4 separate regions of the Homo sapiens genome follow, and all the other regions are linked to region 3. The links come from fine-mapping of genetic effects on gene expression. A gene starts in region 3. Each other region holds a variant in brackets. All regions are shown on one strand. Distances are between the middles of the regions.

Region 1 (5,039 bases), 90 kb before region 3:
TAGTTAGTCTTTGGAACAACGTCTTGCTCTGTCATCCAGGCTGGAGCACAGTGGTGCAATCACAGCTCACTGAAGCCTGAACCTCCCCAGCTCAAGTATCCTCCCACCTCAGCCTCCCAAGTAGCTGGGACCACAGGGACACGTCACCATGCCTGGCTAATTTTTGAAATTCTTTTTTTTTTTTTTTTTTTTTTTTTGTAGAGACAGGGTTTTGCCATGTTGCCCAGGCTGGTCTCGAACTCTTGAGTTCAAGTGATCCACTCACCTTGGCCTCCCAAAGTGCCAGGATTACAGGCATGAGCCACCATGACCGGCCCCATAATTAGAAATTATTTTTCTTTCCTGGACCTCCTTATGACACATCTCTCCTGGCTCTGCTCCTTTCTGAAACCTCCTATTCCCATCTTTTCCTTCTCTTTCTCTACCTGCTTTGTGAAAAATAAGTGCTTCCCAAGGCCCTTGCTCGCCTCTGTGTGAAGTGCCAGTGGCCAGTGCCGAGGCCCAGGTGAAACTCCCCAGCCCACTGATTCACCTGAGCCTGCTGTGAAGGTGAGCCAATGCTATAGCTTTAGTCCTGCCCTCTCTACAAACACCAGACCCACGTGTATTTTTAAAAATTTACACATATTTTAAATATGTATATAAATACAGAGAATAAGAAGACAAAATCCCTGACCCACTACCCAGATTTAACCAGTGCTGACATTTTGGTACATTTGCTTCATAGTTTTAGAAATAACAAGTTACAAATATAGCTGAAGGCCCCGACACACCTCTCCCAGACCCCATTCTCTTCTCTTGCTCCCCATAGGAAACCACCGATCTGAACTTGGTATATAGCCCCAGACCATGTTTGTACTTTGACCACAGAGACTGGTGTCTAGAACAATACATAAAATTATTTTTTTTAATCTTCATGACTCTTTAAGTATCTGTAATTTTTTTCACTCAACACTGTGTTTTCCCCATATTGATACACACAGATCCTGTTGGTTCATTCTGAATGCTGCAGAGTAAATACTTTCTCTTATGACACACATCGCAAGTTGTCTGTCCACTTCCCTAAGCAGACGTCTCGGCTGTGTCCCGAGCAAACGGTGCCATGGTGACCTGCCTTTGCAGGTCTCCTGCTGCGCACCTGCGTGAGCATGTCGCTCTCCTCACCTGCCACCGTCCCTGTGACATTTTCTTGTGCTTGTTTGCTTTTCTGACTCCCCCACTCAAATGCAAGCAAAGAAAGTGAGTACTTTCATCTCTATGCTATTAATGCATCATGCCTAGCTCATAGTGGATTAATATGAAGGAGAAAAGGAAGGAAGGAAAGGAAGAAGGAAGGAAGGAAAGGAGGGAGGGAGGCTTTCTATCACCAGGCTCAGGAGCTAAGGACTAGGCAATACGTGGAATTATTTTGTGGAAGTCCAGGTATGACGTTGCAGTGAGGAATCCAAGAGGCATTTTAATAGCAATGTATATGCCTGCAACCAAAGAACATACTCTCAGCAAGCGTTTTACCTCTCAGCAGAAAGATGTGAGCTGCTGCCTGTATTTTGCGCTGCTGCCTGTATTTTGCACTGCTCCTGAAACGGGTCTGATAACAGCTAGTTATAGAATATTTGGTGTCATTTTCCAGATGAAGGGAACTACATGGTCTCAAGCCAGCTAAGACTTGACAGAGAAAAGATAAGACTTTGACAGTAATTCAGCCAACGTGTATTTCCACTCCTGCTCTGTGCCAGGCAGCACAGGTGAGCCCTGAGGAGGGTCTGGGTAGGGCATGGCCTCTTCACTCCCCTACAATCCACTCACCACATGAAGCAAATCATGTCACGCCCCTCCTTCAAGCCCTCCAATGTCTCCCAGCAGCTTTGCAATAAAGTGTCAACTTCTTGCTCTGCTGGTGTCTTTGAGATCTGGGCCTGTTCTTCCTGCCTCCCTCCATCCTACCCATGTGCACCAGTGCTGACCCTCCCAGCCGGGTCCCCTCAGGGCTTTCTCACTCACAGGGCAGTATCTTCCCATGGCAATCCCCCTCCCCACCTCTCATCACTGCCTCCTCTACCCTGCTGTCCTGCTACAGTGTCTTCATGGCACTTTCCACTGGCAGAAATGACAGGATTTGCCTATTATTGCTGTCTCTTTGTTCCACTAGAATGTAAACTCATGAAGGGCAGGAGCCTTGTCTGAATCGTTTCTTGGCTGTAGATCCCTCACCTACAATTGCGACAGTCACCTAATGAGTATTTATTGCAAGTGGACTTCCGGTGGCCTTCAGATTCTCTGCCCCATCGTGCCTGAGGCCCAGCTGTGAAACTGCAACATTCCTGCACTCCAATTATGGATTCCCCTTAGGCTCAAACTCATTTCATTTTGCTTGTGATAACTGCAATTCACAGCTCTGCGACGCCTGGTGGGAGAGGAGCTAGGCAGAGAGCTTGCTGTATCAGGAGGCAGCCATTGAGTGCTGACCCTGGTCAATACGCAGACATTGATCTGAGAATGGAGAAGCGGCTACACATTTCTCAGGCTGTCAAGTACCTGCAGTGACCATGAGCAGTAAGGTGTGTGGCAAGAGATGGGGCAAGCCCTGGGTTTTCCTTCAAGACCTGGTGCAGAGCAGACGTT[C/T]GGATATCTAGCAGGTTTGCCTCTCAATCCATAAACCTGGGTCTCTAGTGAACTGCTATTCCAGTCTCTAATTCCACTGGGCTGGAAATTACAGATTGGTTGTTACTGGACTCCAGGAGGCTCCCAAAGTCTCACAGAAATCCAGGAGACTTAAATGATCCAAGGGCAGGAAAGAAGGCTGCTCATCCCAGCCTAGCAGCGGATTTGCTCCTCAGTCTTCAGTGTCTAAGCTCAGAGCAGTTCCTGCAAGTCTACCTCCAGGCAAGGGAATCTACCGAGGTGGGGCACCCCTGGGGGCTGTGCCTCTCTAAGGCACACCAGGCACCCTCTTCCTCGGAGCTCTTGCTGTCAGTAGCCCACCTAAGCACACATCCAGGCAACACCTGTCCTTTGCTCACCCAGGCCACAGGGGAAGCTCTGGGCAACTCCTCTTCCAGGACATTAACGCAGCATAAGGGGATAATGGTCTGCTCTACCTTCAAGCCGTCAGAACTTAAGGGGCTCAAGCATCTTTTTCTCACAGACATGTGCCCCCTGCTCTCCCCTCTCTCCCACTCAGCTGGGGAGCGGAGGTCCAAAGCATTTTCTCAGAAACTCAACCTGATGTAATCTTTCTCACATTCTTTCTCATCAGTATCCCTCCCCACCCACTGTGTGCGTGTGTGTGTGTATGTGTGTGTGTGTTGGGGATATGTGTTGGTTCAGCCTGATCATGCAATCTCTCCACTCATTTATACGTGTGGGTTGTGCTTTTTAAAACATAACTGTCAAGACTTAACGTCTTTGTTTTCTTGTTCCTCCCTCACACCTCTCTGCAGGCAGCCCTGGCCTCTTGAGCAGGGAGTGTCAGAGGGTGGAGATGGCGTATCAGTTCATCCTTTACAGACCATCCAACCGCAGGAGTTATCGCTTGAAAAAAGGTTTCACAGTTCGTTGGGAAATGCTGGGCACATGCCCTTTTCTTAATGACTCACGGGGCAGATAAACACAGGAAGGGTCATCTCCAGAAAAGAGCCCTGTTTATACACTAGTGATTCCCAAATGCGCTCAGCTTCAGAGGCTTCTTCAGAGAAGTCTTGGGTGGGCGTGGCCCAGGCTTAGGCTCCTGTTCCCAGGACTGCTGGGTTGTATTTCTATATACAAAGCAGTTGATACTTTTCACGGTAATTTTTTAAATTATTTTTATTTATTTAGTTTTGGGGACAGGGTCTGGCCCTGTCACCCTGGCTGGAGCACAGTGGTGTGATCACAGCTCACTGCAGCCTCAACCTGCCAGGCGACAGCAGTGACTCCTGTGGGACAGGGATCACACCTGCAGAAGAGCTTAGGTGGGTGGATTCACTTCCTGTTGCAGCTGTAACAAACTACTGCAAACTTCATGGCTTAAAACAATGCAAATTTGTCCTCTTACCGTCCCAGAGGTTGGAAGTTTGAAATGGGTCTTATGAGCTAAAATCAAGATGTGGGCAGGGCTGGGTCCTTCTGGAGGCTCCAAGGGAGGATCTATTCCTCGCCTCTTCCAGCTTCTGAGGCCACCACAGTCCTTGGCTTGTGGCCCTGCCTCCATCTCCAATCGCATCCCTCCAACCTCTTCCTCTATCATTGCATCTCCTCTCTGATCCTCCTACCTCCCTCTTAGAAACACCCTTGTGATTATCTGGGGCCACCCACATGGTCCAGGATCCTCTTGCCATGTCAAGACCCTTAATCACATGTGCAGGGCTCCTTTTGCCCTTCACAGGCTCTGAGGATTCGGATGAGGATGTCTTGGGGGCCACTGTTCTGCCAGCTGCAGGGTGTGGTGCTGGAGGCATGGAGTGGGCTGTCTGAATCCTCCATCAGAGTCCGGTGATGGCAATGTAACCTCACGTGGAGCTGGCTGGATGATTCTTGGACAAGCCTCTGTTGGCAAATCCTGATGAGCCCTAGGCACTCTGCACTGCAGCCTGCCAATGCCAGCAGGGATGGGAGACTACACTTTTGACAAACCAAGTCCAGTCCTAGACACTGAGATCTGGGCTGCGACTCAGTCCTCTCTGCCCCATCGCCTGTGATGGGACCTCTCCGGAGACAGAATGCGATGGGCTGGTGAGGAGCTGCTCTGTGACCTGACAGGCTTCACTGCCACCACCACAGCCACCTGGGGAGGCGATGGAATGGGTGGCTTGTTAAGGCCAGGAAAAGCAACAGTGTCAGTTGTGCCACACCCACACTGAGATCGGTTGAAAGCCCACAGCCAAGCACCAGACCCTCAGGCAGCACATCTCACAGTGGAAAGTGCCGGCAGCCACTCAGATGCTTTGGGGCTGGCGCTGTGGACTTGAGAGCCACTGGTGAGACAAACAGCTCCAAAGCTGCCTGTTCAAAGAAGAAGAGAGAAAAAGAAGGGAGGAGAGAAGGAAGGGATGGAAAAAAAG
Region 2 (5,039 bases), 27 kb before region 3:
GCTGAGCTGCCTGAGCCCTGGCTTCACCCACTAGTATCTGTCACCTCAGGAAAACTACAGCAAAATATCCACACTCGCTCCACTTTCCTCAATATCCCTAATCAAGGCAACCACACTTACAGGAGAAGGCACACAAGACACAAGTCAGAGAAGACAACAGCTCTGGACCACGTACATCCTGAATATCTGGAATGAGTACTGCCTTGCTCGGCCTTATCTAAGAATTCTCTGGATGCCACAAATTCACAGGGGAGGGCACAGGTCAAAAATGATGCCTGACTCAAGAAAGGATCTCACCCAAACCATCCCAGGCATCCAGGCCAGTGGGGGTTGGTCTCTAAAACCCCCACTGAGGAAGAATCAATGTCCCATATTAACCTCTATGAACATTAAGTATACAGGGGGATAAACGTAAATATCAGTAGAGAAAATTCAGGTTATCTTTTGGTGAGTTATGAAATACTGATTTTTAAAAATATCTGTACATAGTTCCAATTTTTCAAACTTAAATTAAAAAAACAAGTGTTACTTTCACAAGCAGAAAATAAATGTGATTTTCCCGTTTGTCTAAGGCAAGCCTGTCCAACCCATGGCCTGCAAGCCACATGCAGCCCAGGATGGCTTTGAATACGGCCCAACACAAATTTGTAAACTTTCTTAAAACATAATGAGATTTTTTTGGGTGTGAATTTTTTTTTTTTTTTTTTAGCTCATCATCTATTATTAGTGTTAGCGTATTTTATGTGTGGCCGAAGACACATTCTTCTTCTAATGTGGCCCAGGAAAGTCAAAAGTTTGGACACCCCTGCTCTAAGGCAAGGAAGAAAATGTTTTGTTAAACCATTCTAATTTGGGCAACAATATTATTGACTGTGATAAAGATAACAACAATGATGAATTGATGACACTTTTGTAAATTGCTTTATAGTTCAAAGAGCATTTTCACATATATTTGTTTAAATATCTGTCTTTCCTACTTCTGAATTTCTTGAGGGTATGTCTGAGAGTTTTAAGTATGAATTCCAGCATTATCTGAGCAAATCCAGGCCTCAGTTTCCTTTAGGTATAAAGGTTTGTGTTTTGGATAGTTTTAAGTGTAGACACAGGGCACATGTATGCTTTTAATTCAGTTCTTCAATTAAGATGATCTTTGGAGGAAAAAACTCTCCTGATGAGTTTTAAAAAACAAACACAGGTTTAGATACAAGAAAGCTCCGGCTGGCATCTGGCGGGAGTAATAATAATGGCCATCTTACAGTTGTACAGGAAGGCTTGAGAGCTAATGGGCCCTAAAAGACTAACATCAGCTTGTGGCAAGATGGCCGAATAGGAACAGCTCCAGTCTGCAGCTCCCAGCGAGATCAACGCAGAAGGAGGGTGATTTCTGCATTTCCAGCTGAGGTACCCAGCTCATCTGGTTAAACAGCGGGTACAGCCCATGGAGGGCAAGCCAAAGCAGGGTGGGGTGTTGCCTCATGCAGGAAGCACAAGTGGTTAGTGAACCTCCTCCACTAGCCAAGGGAAGCCGCGAGGGACTGTGCCATGAGGAATGGTGCACTCTGGTCCAGGCACTACACTTTTCCCACGGTCTTCACAACCCACAGACCAGGAGATTCCCTCGGGTGCCTACACCACCAGGGCCCTGGGTTTCAAGCACAAAACTGGACAGCCGTTTGGGCAGACACCAAGCTAGCTGCAGGAGTTTTTTTTTCATACCCCAGTGGTGCCTGGAATGCCAGCAAGACAGAACCGTTCACTCGCCTGGAAAGGTGGCTGAAGCCAGGGAGCCAAGTGGTCTAGCTCAGCGGATCCCACCCCTACAGAGCCCAGCAAGTTAAGATCCACTGGTTTGAAATTCTCACTGCCAGCACAACAGTCTGAAATCGACCTGGGATGCTCAAGCTTGGTCGGGGGAGGGGCATCCACCATTACTGAGGCTTGAGCAGGTGGTTTTCCCCTCATAGT[G/A]TAAACAAAGCCACAGGGAAATGGCAACTGGCTGGAGCCCTCCGCAGCTCAGCAAAGCTACTGTAGCTAGACTGCCTCTCTAGATTCCTCTTCTCTGGGCAGGGCATCTCTGAAAAAAAGGCAGCAGCCCCAGTCAGGGGCTTATAGATGAAGCCATCTCCCTGGGACAGATCACCTGGGGCAAATGGTGGCTGTGGGTGCAGCTTCAGCAGTCTCAAAGGTCCCTGCCTGCCAGCTCTGAAGAGAGCAGTGGATCTCCTAGCACAGTGCTCGAGCTCTGCTAAGGGTCAGACTGCCTCCTCAAGTGGGTCCGTGACCCCTGTGTCTCCTGACCAGGAGACACCCCCCAGCAGGGGCCAAAAGATACCCCATACAAGAGAGTCTGGCTGGCATCTGGCAGGTGCCCCTCAGGGACAATGCTTCCAGGAAGGAACAGGCAGCAATCTTTGCTGTTCTGTAGCCTCTGCTGGTGATACTCAGGCAAACAGGGTCTGGAGTGGACCTCCAGCAAACTCTAGCAGACCTGCAGCAGAGGGACCTGACTGTTAGAAGGAAAACTAACAAACAGAAAGGTATAGCATCAATATCAACAAAAAGGACGTCCACTCAGAAACGCCATCCGAAGGTCACCAACATCAAAAAGCAAAGGTAGATAAATCCATGAAGATGGGGAGAAACCAGCGCAACAAGCCTGAAAATTCCAAAAACCAGAATGCCTCTTCTCCTTCAAAGGATCACAACTCCCTCGCCAGCAAGGGAACAAAACTGGATGGAGAATGCGTTTAACAAATTGACAGAAGTAGGTTTTAGAAGGTGGGTAATAAAAAAACTCCACCGAGCTAAAGTAGCATGTTCTAACCCAAGGCAAGGAAGCTAAGAACCCTGAAAAAAGGTTAGAGAAATTGCTAACTAGAATAATCAGTTTAGAGAGGAACATAAATGACCTGATGGAGCTGAAAAACACAGCACAAGAACTTCGTGAAGCATACACAAGTATCAATAGCCAAATCGATCAAGCAGAAGAAAGAATATCAGCGACTGAAGATCAACTTAATGAAATAAAGCGTGAAGACAAGATAGAGAAAAAAGAATGAAAAGGAACAAACAAAGCCTCCAAGAAATATAAGACTATGTGAAAAGACCAAACATAAGTTTGACTGGTGTACCTGAAAATGACGGGGAGAATGGAACCAAGTTGGAAAACACTCTTCAGGATATTATCCAGGAGAACTTCCCCAACCTAGCAAGACAGGCCAACATTCAAATTCAGGAAATACAGAGAACACAACAAAGATACTCCTCAAGAAGAGCAACCCCAAGACACATAATCGTCAGATTCACCAAGCTTGAAATGAAGGAAAAAATGTTGAGGGCAGCCAGAGAGAAAGGTCAGGTTACCCACAAAGGGAAGCTCATCAGACTTAACAGCAGATCTCTCTGCAGAAACCCTACAAGCCAGAAGAGAATAGGGGCCAATATTCGACATTCTTAAAGAAAATAATTTTCAACCCAGAATTTCATATCCAGCCAAACTAAGCTTCATAAGTGAAGGAGAAATAAAATTCTTTACAGACAAGCAAATGCTGAGAGATTTTGTCACCACTAGGCCTGCCTTACAAGAGTTCCTGAAGGGAAGCACTAAACATGGAAAGGAACAACTGGTACCAGTCACTGCAAAAACATACCAAATTGTAAAGACCATAGACACTATGAAGAAACTGCATCAACTAATAGCCAAAATAACCAGCTAGCATCATAATGACAGGATCAAATTCACACATAACAATACTAACCTTAAACGTAAACAGGCTAAATGCCCCAATTAAAAGACACAGACTGGCGAATTGGATAAAGAGTCAAGACTCATTGATGTGCTGTATTCAGGAGACCCACCTCATGTGCAAACACACACATAGGCTCGAAATACAGGGATGGAGGAAGATTTACCAAGCAAATGGAAAGCAAAAAAAAGTCGGGGTTGGAATCCTAGTCTCTGATAAAACAGACTTTAAACCAAAAAGATCAAAAGAGACAAAGAAGGGCCTTACATAATGGTAAAGGGATCAATGCAACAAGAAGAGCTAACTATCCTAAATATATATGCACCCAATACAGGAACACCCAGATTCATAAAGCAAGTTCTTAGAGACCTACAAAAAGACTTAGACTTCCACACAGTAATAGTGGGAGACTTTAACACCCCACTGTCAATATTAGACAGATCAATGAGGCAGAAAATTAACAACGATATTCAGGGCTTGAAATCAGCTCTGGACCAAACAGACTTAATAGACATCTACAGAACTCTCCACCCCAAATCAACAGAATATACATTCTTCTCAGCACCACATTGCAGTTATCCTAAAATTGACCACATAATTGGAAGTGAAACACTCCTCAGCAAATGCAAAAGAACAGAAATAATAACAAACAGTCTCTCAGATCACAGTGCAATCAAATTAGAACTCAGGATTAAGAAACTCACTCAAAACTGTAAAACTACATGGAAACTGAACAACCTGCTCCTGAATGACTACTGGGTAAATAATGAAATTAAGGCAGAAATAAGTTCTTTGAAGCCAATGAGAACAAAGACACAACATCCCAGAATCTCTGGGACACAGCCAAAGCACTGGTTAGTGGGAAATTTCTAGGACTAAATGCCCACAAAAGAAAGCTGGAAAGCTCTAAAATCAACACCCTAACACCACAATTAAAAGAACTAGAGCAGCAAGCGCAAAGAAATTCAAACGCTAGCAGAAGACAAGAAATAACTAAGATCAAAACAGAACTGAAGGAGATAGACACATGAAAAACCTTTCAAAAAAATCAATGAATCCAGGAGCTGGTTTTTTGAAAAGATCAACAAAATAGATAGACCGCTAGCCAGACTAATAAAGAAGAAAAGAGAGAGGAATCAAATCGATGCAATAAAAAATGATAAAGGAGATATCACCACCGATCCCACAGAAATACAAACTACCATCAGAGAATACTACAAACACCTCTAAGCAAATGAACTAGAAAATCTAGAAGAAATGGATAAATTCCTGGACACATACACCCTCCAAAGT
Region 3 (5,039 bases):
CCTACCTTCCAAGAGAAATCATTCCCTGACCACCTACTTAAAACAGCATCTTCCTCTCCACCCATGTCAATCCCTATCTTATTCCCTTATTCTGCTTTCTTTTCTTTTCTTTTTTTTTGAGACAGGATCTTGCTTTATCACTCAGGCTGAAGTGCAGTGGTGGGATCACAACTCACTGTAGCCTCAAACTCCTGGGCTCAAGCCATCCTCCTGCCTCAGCCTCCCGAGTAGCTGGTTCGACAGGCACACACCATTATGCCCAGCTAATTTTTCTTTTTTTTTTGTATAAACGATGTCTTGATATGCTGCCAGGCTGGTCTTGAACTCCTGGACCCAAACTGCTTTATTTTCTTCATAGTACTTACTAGTACCTGAAATAAAGCTATTGAAGGAAACTAAAACATTTCACCTCAAAACAGACTTATTGGAAATATTTTGAGATGGCCGTTCAGAGGGCCTACAGACAAAAGTAGTCCTACTGTGAGGGAGATGAGCATCTGTTGAGAACCTCCATTGACGCAGCCAGTTTTTCTCAGAGGGCCCTTCCTTGTCTGGATCTGGGTGAGATTAGCTGAATTTGGCACCTTCAAGGTCTGAAACATTTCTTCTCCCTGAGGGCTGCTACCTGTGAGGTTTCATCTACATAAGACCACCTTTGCTAGCCAGGTCTCCTCTTCTCTCCCTCCTATAACCTGATTTACAACCATAACCTGTTTTTGGCCAAGCTTAGAGCCCCCACACTTTCTGTAACCTCAGGATAGTATAATTGTGGCAACCACCTTGCCTTCCTTTGAGATCTTATGTTGTAAGACTCTCACGGCACGTTAGTAAATGTGTATGCCTTCTCTCCTATTAATCTGCCATTTGTCAGTTGATTTTTCAGTGACGCTTCACGGGGCACAAAAGTTTTCCCTTAACTCCTACGCTATACATTTGTTTATCCCTTTTTTTTTCCTATCTCCAACTAGGATGTAAATTCATGAGGGCAAGGTCTCGGTCCTACCTAAATCCCCAGTGTCTAAAACTTTGAGTACTATGTGTTTGAGCACATAGTACACACAAAAAAATTTGTTGAATAAATGTTGATAACAAGATATAATACCTACATCAAAGGGTTTTTGTGAGGATTAAACGCGAGAGTGCACATAGAGGGATATGAGTGCCTAACACAATGCCCAGCACACAGTAAGCTCAATAACGCTGGTCAACGCTATTATCAGAGGATTCCAGAAGACAGGTCAACATGGGCAGGAGCAGTTACAGAACGTTTCAAGGAGGTGGCAGGTCTTGAGCTTGATTTGGAAGGATAATGATTTCTTTCTCTAGGTGGGGACACTGTAGGAAGTTGAAATCTCCTCTGTACAAGCCACCCCTCCCAACATTTCTTCATACTCCTATCAAATGCATAGTCATCATACCCTACAAACCACCTACTAACCAGCCTCTCTCTGTCTGTCCACTAATCCGTTAGTTTTCATTTCTGTATCACCGGAGCCTAGATGAATTCACTACTAAAGGGCACCCAGCAACGTCAGTGAATTAGTTTCAGAAATCTGTGGAAAAGAAACAGCCTACTGTTCTGTCCAGCAATCCAGGCCTAAGTATCTATCCTAAAGAAATAGTGTCAGCATTAAAAATCATGTACAAAGATGTTCACTTGCAAGAGAGAGAGAAAAAAAGTAGCAAACAGAACGTCCACCACTAGGAAACCATGAATAAACTATGATGCGTCCAAACTGTGCAGAGGTTGCACTGAATTAGACAGTTAGTGAAACAATCTCTAAGATATATCGTTAAACTGAAAAAAGAGAATGCACATACAGTGATCTCATTTAGGTAAAACAAAAATTTTAACACCTCATACAAATGAAACCTAAAGATTTCTCTGAATGTGTGCATATTACATATAGATACATGTCTTGTTAACCACTGTATCAACTCAACACTGTGTGCCTGAAACATAGAAAGTTCTCAATAAATATTTGCCGAATGAAGACATATGTACGTGAATAGAAAAAGACTGAAAAATAGATCTGCTTTTTGTGCAAAATATTTCTGTGCTGTTTCCATTTTTAAAAGACTGTCTTAATGTATTACTTGTACAATTAAAATGAATTTAAAACAGTTATAAAAGTTCCAGGACCTCGATATACCATATCTGGTCCAAGCACCAGGCTCTGAGTAACTTCTCCAGGTAACTAACTTCATCGTTTTGAGCCATTAGGGCTCTAGCACAGCAACTCGACGCTCACTTTATCTCTCCAGCATCAGACCCCTTAAAAGCATAAAGATGAATTTTGAGGTGCGGGGTTTTCCATTGCTCCCAAACATCAGTTGACGGCACACTTTTTCTAAAGGGTCCTTTTCTCCCACGCCAAGACATCCCTGGAGCTGGGGTCTGGCTCGGCCTTCCCTGCGCACCCCCTGGGGGCGAGTAAGCGCCGAACGCGGGGAGGAAAATCCTCCTGGTGGGAGTGAGCACGCTGCGCGGACGCGGGGGAACAAAACTCACTTTCCGACTGGCCCCTTCTCTGGCTGTGATCTGTCTCTCCTGCTCAGGCATCGTCCCGCACGGACACCGAATTCTTCTCTGATCTGGCTCAGAGCAAAAGGTCACCTGGTCGGTGGAGGAGAGCGGGGTGTTAAAGTCCCGGGAGAGGAGGCGCAGAGTGTGAGGGCATCGGCGCGGCTCGGCTCTAAAGCAAACAGGGGTCCGGGAACCGCCCCTTCATTTGGGACCGGGGAAGCCGCAGCCCTCTTCACACGGATGATTCAAAGTTGCGCGCCGCCGTCCTCCCGACCTGGGGGCACGGGGATGAGAGCGTGAGGGGAGAGTGGGCCTCGGACCCTCGCCCACTCCCCAGGTGGCTGGGAGTGCCCACCCTGGAACTGCCGGCCCCGCCGGTGCCACAGTGTTCTCTGCCGTGCCAGTGCCACAATGTCCTCTGCCGTGCCGGCGCCGCAGGGCGGAGGCCTGTCCTCCTCCGCGGTCTCGGCCACCTCGCGCTGGTGCGCTCCGACACTGTACTGGGATCTCACGCGTGTGCGGGAGCGGGAGGGCAGGTGAGCTGCGCAGAGCCGGGCCGCAGACTCAGCTCCCAGGGCTCACCCACCGCCTGCGGGGAAGGTGCCCGGCGGCGCCGCGTCGGGTCCGCTCTGCGCTGCCCCCTCCTCGGACTCTGCGCCTGGCTGCCGGACGCCGTGGGTCCCAAAGGAAGCAACCGCGGCAAGAGTGAACTCCGCACCTGGAAAATCGATCCGCTGTGCGCAAAGGCCAGCCAATGGCCTCCAACGGGCGGCGGGCTTTGGGCCGGGAACGGGGGCGCAGGCGCCCAGGCGGGGGCTTCTAGTGGGGGAGGTGGCCGAGGGAGGGAGCGACGGCTGTCAATCACAGGCCACGCCCTCCTCAGCCCAACCCCCCACTGCTGTCCCGCCCACGGGGGCGGGAGCCGTGTGCGCCACGCCGAACACTAGTCTACGCCTCGGCATATTCTATTGGCTGGAAGGCCGTGGGAAGCGGCTACCAGTAACCAATAGTAACGCACAATTGGCCCGTGGGGGCGGGGCGAGCACGGCTTGCTTTCTCAGGAGCCAATAGGGAAAAGGAAAGTGAAGCGTTTCCTGAGTTCGGGGGTCGGCGGAAGATGGCGGCCGGCGAAAGGAGCTGGTGCCTGTGCAAGTTGTTGAGGTGAGCAGCCGGTCGTGTGGGCTCACAGACGTTTTCTCTTCTGTAGGGGTACTTGCCCGTCCAGTGTAGCTAAATTTTGCGGGCAAATGGCCTTCCTTGTCATGAATCTAAGGTAATTTCTCAGGCCAATGAGCAGTCTTTCTTTTTCTTGGGGGTCTTCTATATAGACTGGAATAGACTAGGTCTTAAAGACTCAATTTACCGCGTTTTCTTCTGCTTCACTGTTGGCCGAGGGGTCGAGTTCCCTTCCCTGCTTCAGCTTTTTTTTTCCCTTTCACACTCCAGTTAGTCTGTCATAAATTATTCATATTCATTCCTTATTTTTCTTTACGATTGAGCCACGAGACATTTTCCAATCTATCATGTCTCTTTTCGGTAAAGAAGAAACCGGATCTTCCTTCTCATCTTAGTTTCTACTCTTAAACTCACCAAAACTGCCATTGTTAACACGTCACTTAAATATAAAGCTTATGTTGAATCCTCTGCTTTTTGATAATCTGTTACTTTAATTTTTATGATGTAAGAAGTTACATAAAATATTATTTTATTTGTATTACGTGTATATGCTGTTTCTTCTAGAAAAATTAGAAAATAGATAAGTAAAAGGAAAAAACCCCAGGAATGCTACCATCCGGAGATAGCCACTGTTAACATTTTGGTGAAAAAACTCCCAGGCTTTTTTCCACCTTTGTTGTTGTAGTACTACTGTATTTTAAATGCCTTGCCCTCCACTAATAAAACAGAAGGCCTAGTATATTCTACCTACCTAGTTTTTTTACCACCTACATATTTTTGTTCAGGCTGAAAATTTATAATTAACACCATAGCTTCCTGAATAGCAGTATATACCTAATTCTTTCAAAAGTTCAGGCATTTCTTCTTCGTTTTTGTCCACTCTACTTCAAATTCTGTAATCATTACTTTAAACATTTTGAATGAGAAAGTCTGTTATCAGAGCCTTTTGGTTCTTCCCTGTCATACGTAATATTCCTCAGTGCTTTACATTATAATGTTTAAATAAACTCACTAACCAGACTTAAAGGACAGGTTTAACTTTAGTTATTATGCAGCTTTTAAGTTAAATGTTTAATAGTTCAGTTTGAAAAGCTTGTCACATGAATTTTCCCACCTAAATTATTTGAAGGAATTGCCAGAAAAACCTTTACATTATATGGGTCAGCTGCATTTTAAATAAGCTTTTGAAAGAGTGTCCTGAGAAAGCAAACTGTCCTCTGTAGTGTTGCTTTTATGAATTCATATATTCCAAATGTTAAATAAATGATAAATCTTACCACTTTTGTCAGACTCTGTTCATCCTTTAAGGCAGTGGTTCTCAAATTGTGCTCCATGG
Region 4 (5,039 bases), 87 kb after region 3:
TAAGATGAGCCTGCCTCCCCTTCTGCTATGATTATAAATTTCCTGAGGCCTCCCCAGCCATACTTCCTGTACAGCCTGCAGAACTGTGAGCCAATTAAATGTATTTTCTTTATAAATTACCCAGTCTCAGGTGTTCTTTATAGCAGTATGAGAATGGACTAACACAGTACATTGATACCAGGAGTGGGGTATTGTATAAAGATACCTGAAAATGTGAAAGTGACTTTGGAACTGGGTAATGGGCGGAGGTTGGAAGAGCGTGGAGGGCTCAGAAGAAGATAGGAAGATGATGGAAAGTTTGGAATGCCCTAGAGACTTCTTAAAATCATAGTGACCAAAATGCTGATAGTGATATGGTCAATAAAGTCCAGGCTAAGGAGGTCTCAGATGGAGATGAGGAACTTATTGAGAAATGCAGCAAAGGACACTTTTGTTATGAATTAGCAAAGAGGTTGGAGGCATTGTGCCACTACCCTAGGGATCTGTGGAACTTTGAACTTGAGAGTGATGATTTAGGGCGTCTGACAGAAAAAATTTCTAAGCAACAAAGTATTCAAGATGTGGCCTGGCTGCTCTAGCACCCTATGGTCATATTTGTGAGCAAATAAATGATGTAAAACCAGAGCTTATACTTAAAAGAGAAGCAGAGTGTAAAAGTTAGGAAAGTTTGCAGCCTAGAAAGAAAAACCCATTTTCTGGGGAGCAATTCAAACCAGCTGCAGAAATTTTCAAAAATAAAGAGGAGTCAAATGTTGTTAGCCAAGATAATGGGGGAAATGCCTTGAAGGCATTTCAGAGACCTTTGAGGCAGCCCCTCTCATCACAGGCCCAGAGGCCTAGGAGGGAAGAATGGCTTTGAGGACCAAGCCCAGGGCCCCACTGCTCTGTGCAGCCTCAGGACATGGTGTCCTGTATTGTGGCTGCTCCAGCTCCAGCCATGGTTAAAACGGCCCAAGGTACAGCTCAGGCCATTGCTTCAGAGGGTGCAAGCCGTAAATCTTGGTGGCTTCCACATGGTGTTAAGTCTGCAGATGCACAGAGTGCAAGAGTTGAGGCGTGGGAGCCTCCACCAAGATCTCAGAAGATGTATGGAAAAGCCTAGTCGTCCAGGCAGAAGCCTGTTTCAGGGGGACCCTCTACTAGGGCAGTGCAGAGGGGAAATGTGGCATTGGAGCCTCCACACAGAGTCCCCACTGGGGCACTGCTTAGTGGAGCTGTGAGAAGAGGGCCACCATTCTCCTGACTCCAAAAACGGTAGATTGAACGACAGCTTGCACCACGCACCTGGAAAAGCCGCAGACACTCAACAGCAGCCTGTGAGAGCAGCCGCAGGGGCTGTAGCCTGCAAAGCCTCAGGAGCAGAGCTGCCCAAGGCCTTGAGAGCCCACTCCTCACACCAGTATGCCCTGGATGTGAGACATGGGGTCAAAGGAATTTGGAGCTTTAAGATTTAATGACTGCCCTGCTAGGTTTTGAATTTGCATGGGGTCTATAAACCCTTTGTTTTGGCTGATTTCTCCCTTTTGAAATGGGTGTATTTACCCAATGCCTGTACCCTCATTGTATTTTGGAAGTAACTAACTTGTTTTTTATTTTACAGCCTCACAGGTGGAAGGGACTTGACTTGTCTCAGAGAGACCTTGAATTGTGGACTTTTGAGTTAATGCTGAAATGAGTTAAGCCTTGGGGGACTGTTGAGAAGGGATAATTGTATTTTGCAATGTGAGAAGGATATGGGAATTGGGAGGGGCCAAAGGTGGAATGATATGGTTTGGATTTGTGTCCCTGCCCAAATTTCATGTTGAATTGTAATCCCTGATGTTGGAGGAGGGGCCTGGTGGAAGGTGATTAGATTATGGGGACAGATTTCCCTCTTACTGTTCTTGTGATAGTAAGTTCTCCAGAGATCTGGTTGTTTACAAGTGTGTAGCACCTCCCCCTTTGCTCTCTTTCTCCTGCTCTGGCCATTTAAGATGAGCCTGCTTCCCCTTCTGCCATGATTATAAGTTTCCTGCGGCCTCCCCAGCAATGCATCCTGTACAGCCTGCAGAACTGTAAGCCAATTAAACCTCTTGTCTTTATCAACTACCCAGTCTCAAGCAGTTCTTTATAGTAGTATGAGAACAGACTAATACATCCAGGCTGCAGTGAGCTGAGACATGCCACTGCCCTCTAGCCTGGGTGACACAGCAGGACCCTCTTTCAAATAAATAAATAAATAAATAAATAAATAAATAAATAAATAAAGCCCTTTATCAAATGAAGGGCAATAACTTAAACAATCGGTTTTTAAAAAAATGTTTATATACCAACACATTTTCTAAAATGTCTATATATCAAGTAAACACTTAGTAAATACACTTCCAAATGGTTC[T/TC]TAATTTAACCATGAGCCTTCTTTAAAAATACAATTCTTTAATTAAAAGACAGTAGCCATTTTATCATTTACATACCAGAAGCATTTCACTAGTATGACCTAAAAGATTCAACACTCTGCTGAAGTGAATTCAAATAATTAAACACAAAGAATCACTAGGGAAATATCAATTATTATATCATAAAAACTTCTCAATCCTATACATAATATGTTAGAATTAAGAATATTAAATGCAGAGTGTTTTCTGTTGCTATGTTACTCACTTTTCCTATACAGAAAAATCTTATTTATTAGAAATTAGAAGAATTTCAGTTATAAAAAGAAAATTAAGCCTAAAGTATACTTATAAGAGCATACAGCATTGTTTCATAAAATATAAAAACTAGAAGTTGTCCAACAAAATACCATTATAATGCTCAGTACAGAATACTTCATTTTAAGTACAAAATTTGTGGACTCCAAACAATAAGCTTGTACCTCATGAACATGTGCAGATAGGTCTGTCAGAATATACCATAGCTTAATGGGTTAAAAAAACAAAAGAATGAATAAGACCTACTATTTGATAGCACAATAGACTGCCTATGGTCAATAGTAACTTAATTGTACATTTTGAAATAAGTTACAGAGTATAACTGGGTTGTTTGTAACTCAAAGGATAAATACTTGAGGGGACAAACACCCTATTCTCCATGATGTGCTTATTTCACATTGCTTGCCTGTATCAAAACATCTCATATACCCCATAAATATATACACTTACTATGTACCCACAAAAATTTTTTTTTTAATTAAAAAATTAAAGAAAAAGAATATAACAGCTGGGTGCAGTGGCTTATGCTTGTAATACCAGCACTTTGGGAGGCCGAGGCAGGCTGATCGCAAGGTCAGGAGTTCGAGACCAGTCTGACCAACATGGTGAAACCCTGTCTCTACTAAAAGTATAAAAATTAGCCGGGGCCGGGCGCCATGGCTCACACCTGTAATCCCAGCACTTTGGGAGGCCCAGGCAGGTGGATCACGAGGTCAAGAGATGGAGACCATTCTGGCCAATATGGTGAAACCCCATCTCTACCAAAAATACAAAAATTAGCTGGGCATAGTGGCACACGTCTGTAGTCCCAGCTACTCAGGAGGCTGGGGCAGAAGAATTGCTTGAACCCGGGAGGTGGAGTTTGCGGTGAGCCGAGATCGCGCCACTGCACTCCAGCCTGGCGACAGAGCGAGACTCCGTCTCAAAACAAACAAACAAACAAACAAAAAGCATATACCATAGCTAAAAAACACAAAGGAGGGTTTAGAATGACTTACAGATCTGGCCTTCTGGGCTCCAGCTGGTGGTCTCCATTCATTTCTATGCAATATAGCATTCCTTTTAATTGGCACAGATATCCTTGATCTTGGTGGGCACTTTCCCTGGAATCTCACTTTTTGTATTTTACACTCTTAATTAACCAAAATAAAACAGCTTCAATTTTTTAAAAATTGTACACCATTAATACTGATACTTGTAAGAGTATAAACATAAGCTACATTTCATAACACAGTAAGTTTACTTTTTAGCCAGAGATATTTTACACACAGTGAGAGTACTGATGAAAAATTAATATGCAATTTCTTTAAATGAAAAAAACCATTTTTTCAGAGTCCCTTTGCATATTTCTAGTAATATATAACATCACTTTTTTTCAGAAAAATAGAAATTAATATTAACATTTACAGAAACAATATGTATGGGGTAATAATAAAAGTTATTAAATTTGGTCATTAGAGCTTGGGTTATCAGGCCACTCCATTCATGCCACATTGTTTGGAATTTATGAGTAGATCTTCTCTCTTTTTTTTTTGTTGAGACAGTCTCACTCTGTCACCCGGGCTACGGTGCAGTGGCAGGGTCTGAGCTCACTGCAACCTTCACCTCCCGAGTTCATGCGATTCTTGTGCCTCAGCCACCCAAGGAGCTGGGATTACAGGCATGGGCCACCAGGTCCAGCTAATTTTTGTATTTTTAGTAAAGACATGGTTTGGCCATGTTGGCCAGACTGGCATCAAACTCCTGGCCTCCGGTGACCTGCCCTCCTTGGCCTCCCAAAGTGCCAGGACTGAGGTATGAGTAGATCTTCTAATGCTTGTCTTTATCTCCATCAAAATTTGTTCTTGGGCTGAGTAAGGTGGCTCGCACCTGTAATCCCAGCAATTTGGGAGGCCAAGGTAGGAGGATTGTTTGAGCTCAGGAGTTCGAGACCAGCCTGGGCAACACAGTGAGACCCCATCTCAATAAAAAAAAAATTGTTCTTGTTCTCCTATCTTACCTAGATTAGAAATATGGACAATACACAGTCCCATACTCTGTACTTGTCTATTTTCTAAACATTCTCAATCTAGACTGGTATACAACAATGTTAGTCAAATTAAATGGCAAAGAGGCTCATTCACTTTCTCTTTAACTTTCCTTGATTTTAGAATCTCTGTCTCAATGGATAACATTTCCCTGTCATGGATTCCTTTGAGAGGCTTTCTGCTCCTCCTGATATTGTAAGTCCAGGCATTCAGTTACAGCTAAATTCTGGGGCTTTGACTTTCACAGCATCAAATGAATTAGTAATTTTCTCTTTCTTAACGTACCCCTCCCTCTGACACACAGCTTAGCTGATTCTTGACACCA

Direction of the effects. Alleles are on the strand shown, and positions count from the first base shown. SD is a standard deviation of normalised expression in the study named. Not every link is listed here.
With allele T in place of TC in region 4, the expression in unexposed skin of the gene that starts at base 2,676 in region 3 is higher (moderate effect, 0.49 SD a copy in GTEx).

The links. PIP is the estimated chance that this variant, and not a neighbour inherited with it, causes the effect. A credible set is the group of variants that fine-mapping cannot tell apart.
Region 1: its variant is the best candidate, but not a certain one, in a credible set for the expression of ATP7B in cerebellum (GTEx, PIP 0.52).
Region 2: its variant is the best candidate, but not a certain one, in a credible set for the expression of ATP7B in unexposed skin (GTEx, PIP 0.60).
Region 4: its variant is the best candidate, but not a certain one, in a credible set for the expression of ATP7B in unexposed skin (GTEx, PIP 0.57).

Annotation. Positions count from the first base shown.
Region 1 is chr13:51,918,632-51,923,670 of GRCh38, forward strand. It overlaps a transcript of TMEM272 not described here. Among named protein-coding and RNA genes, the nearest start is that of CCDC70, 59 kb to the left of the region's middle. The variant C/T (reference allele first, on the strand shown) is at 2,623.
Region 2 is chr13:51,981,317-51,986,355 of GRCh38, forward strand. All of the region lies in intron 1 of ATP7B (ATPase copper transporting beta), which reads right to left. Among named protein-coding and RNA genes, the nearest start is that of ATP7B, 28 kb to the right of the region's middle. The variant G/A (reference allele first, on the strand shown) is at 1,966.
Region 3 is chr13:52,008,775-52,013,813 of GRCh38, forward strand. ATP7B (ATPase copper transporting beta) reads right to left here and starts at 2,676. Exons shown (of 21, transcript NM_000053.4): 1 at 2,513-2,676. The coding sequence starts at 2,563. ALG11 (ALG11 alpha-1,2-mannosyltransferase) reads left to right here and starts at 3,624. Exons shown (of 4, transcript NM_001004127.3): 1 at 3,624-3,688. The coding sequence starts at 3,645. RefSeq lists silencers at 2,883-3,222, 3,273-3,382, 3,393-3,492 and enhancers at 3,613-3,742, 3,793-3,882.
Region 4 is chr13:52,096,058-52,101,096 of GRCh38, forward strand. It overlaps NEK5 (NIMA related kinase 5), which reads right to left. Exons shown (of 24, transcript NM_001365552.1): 12 at 3,686-3,819. Among named protein-coding and RNA genes, the nearest start is that of NEK5, 30 kb to the right of the region's middle. The variant T/TC (reference allele first, on the strand shown) is at 2,375.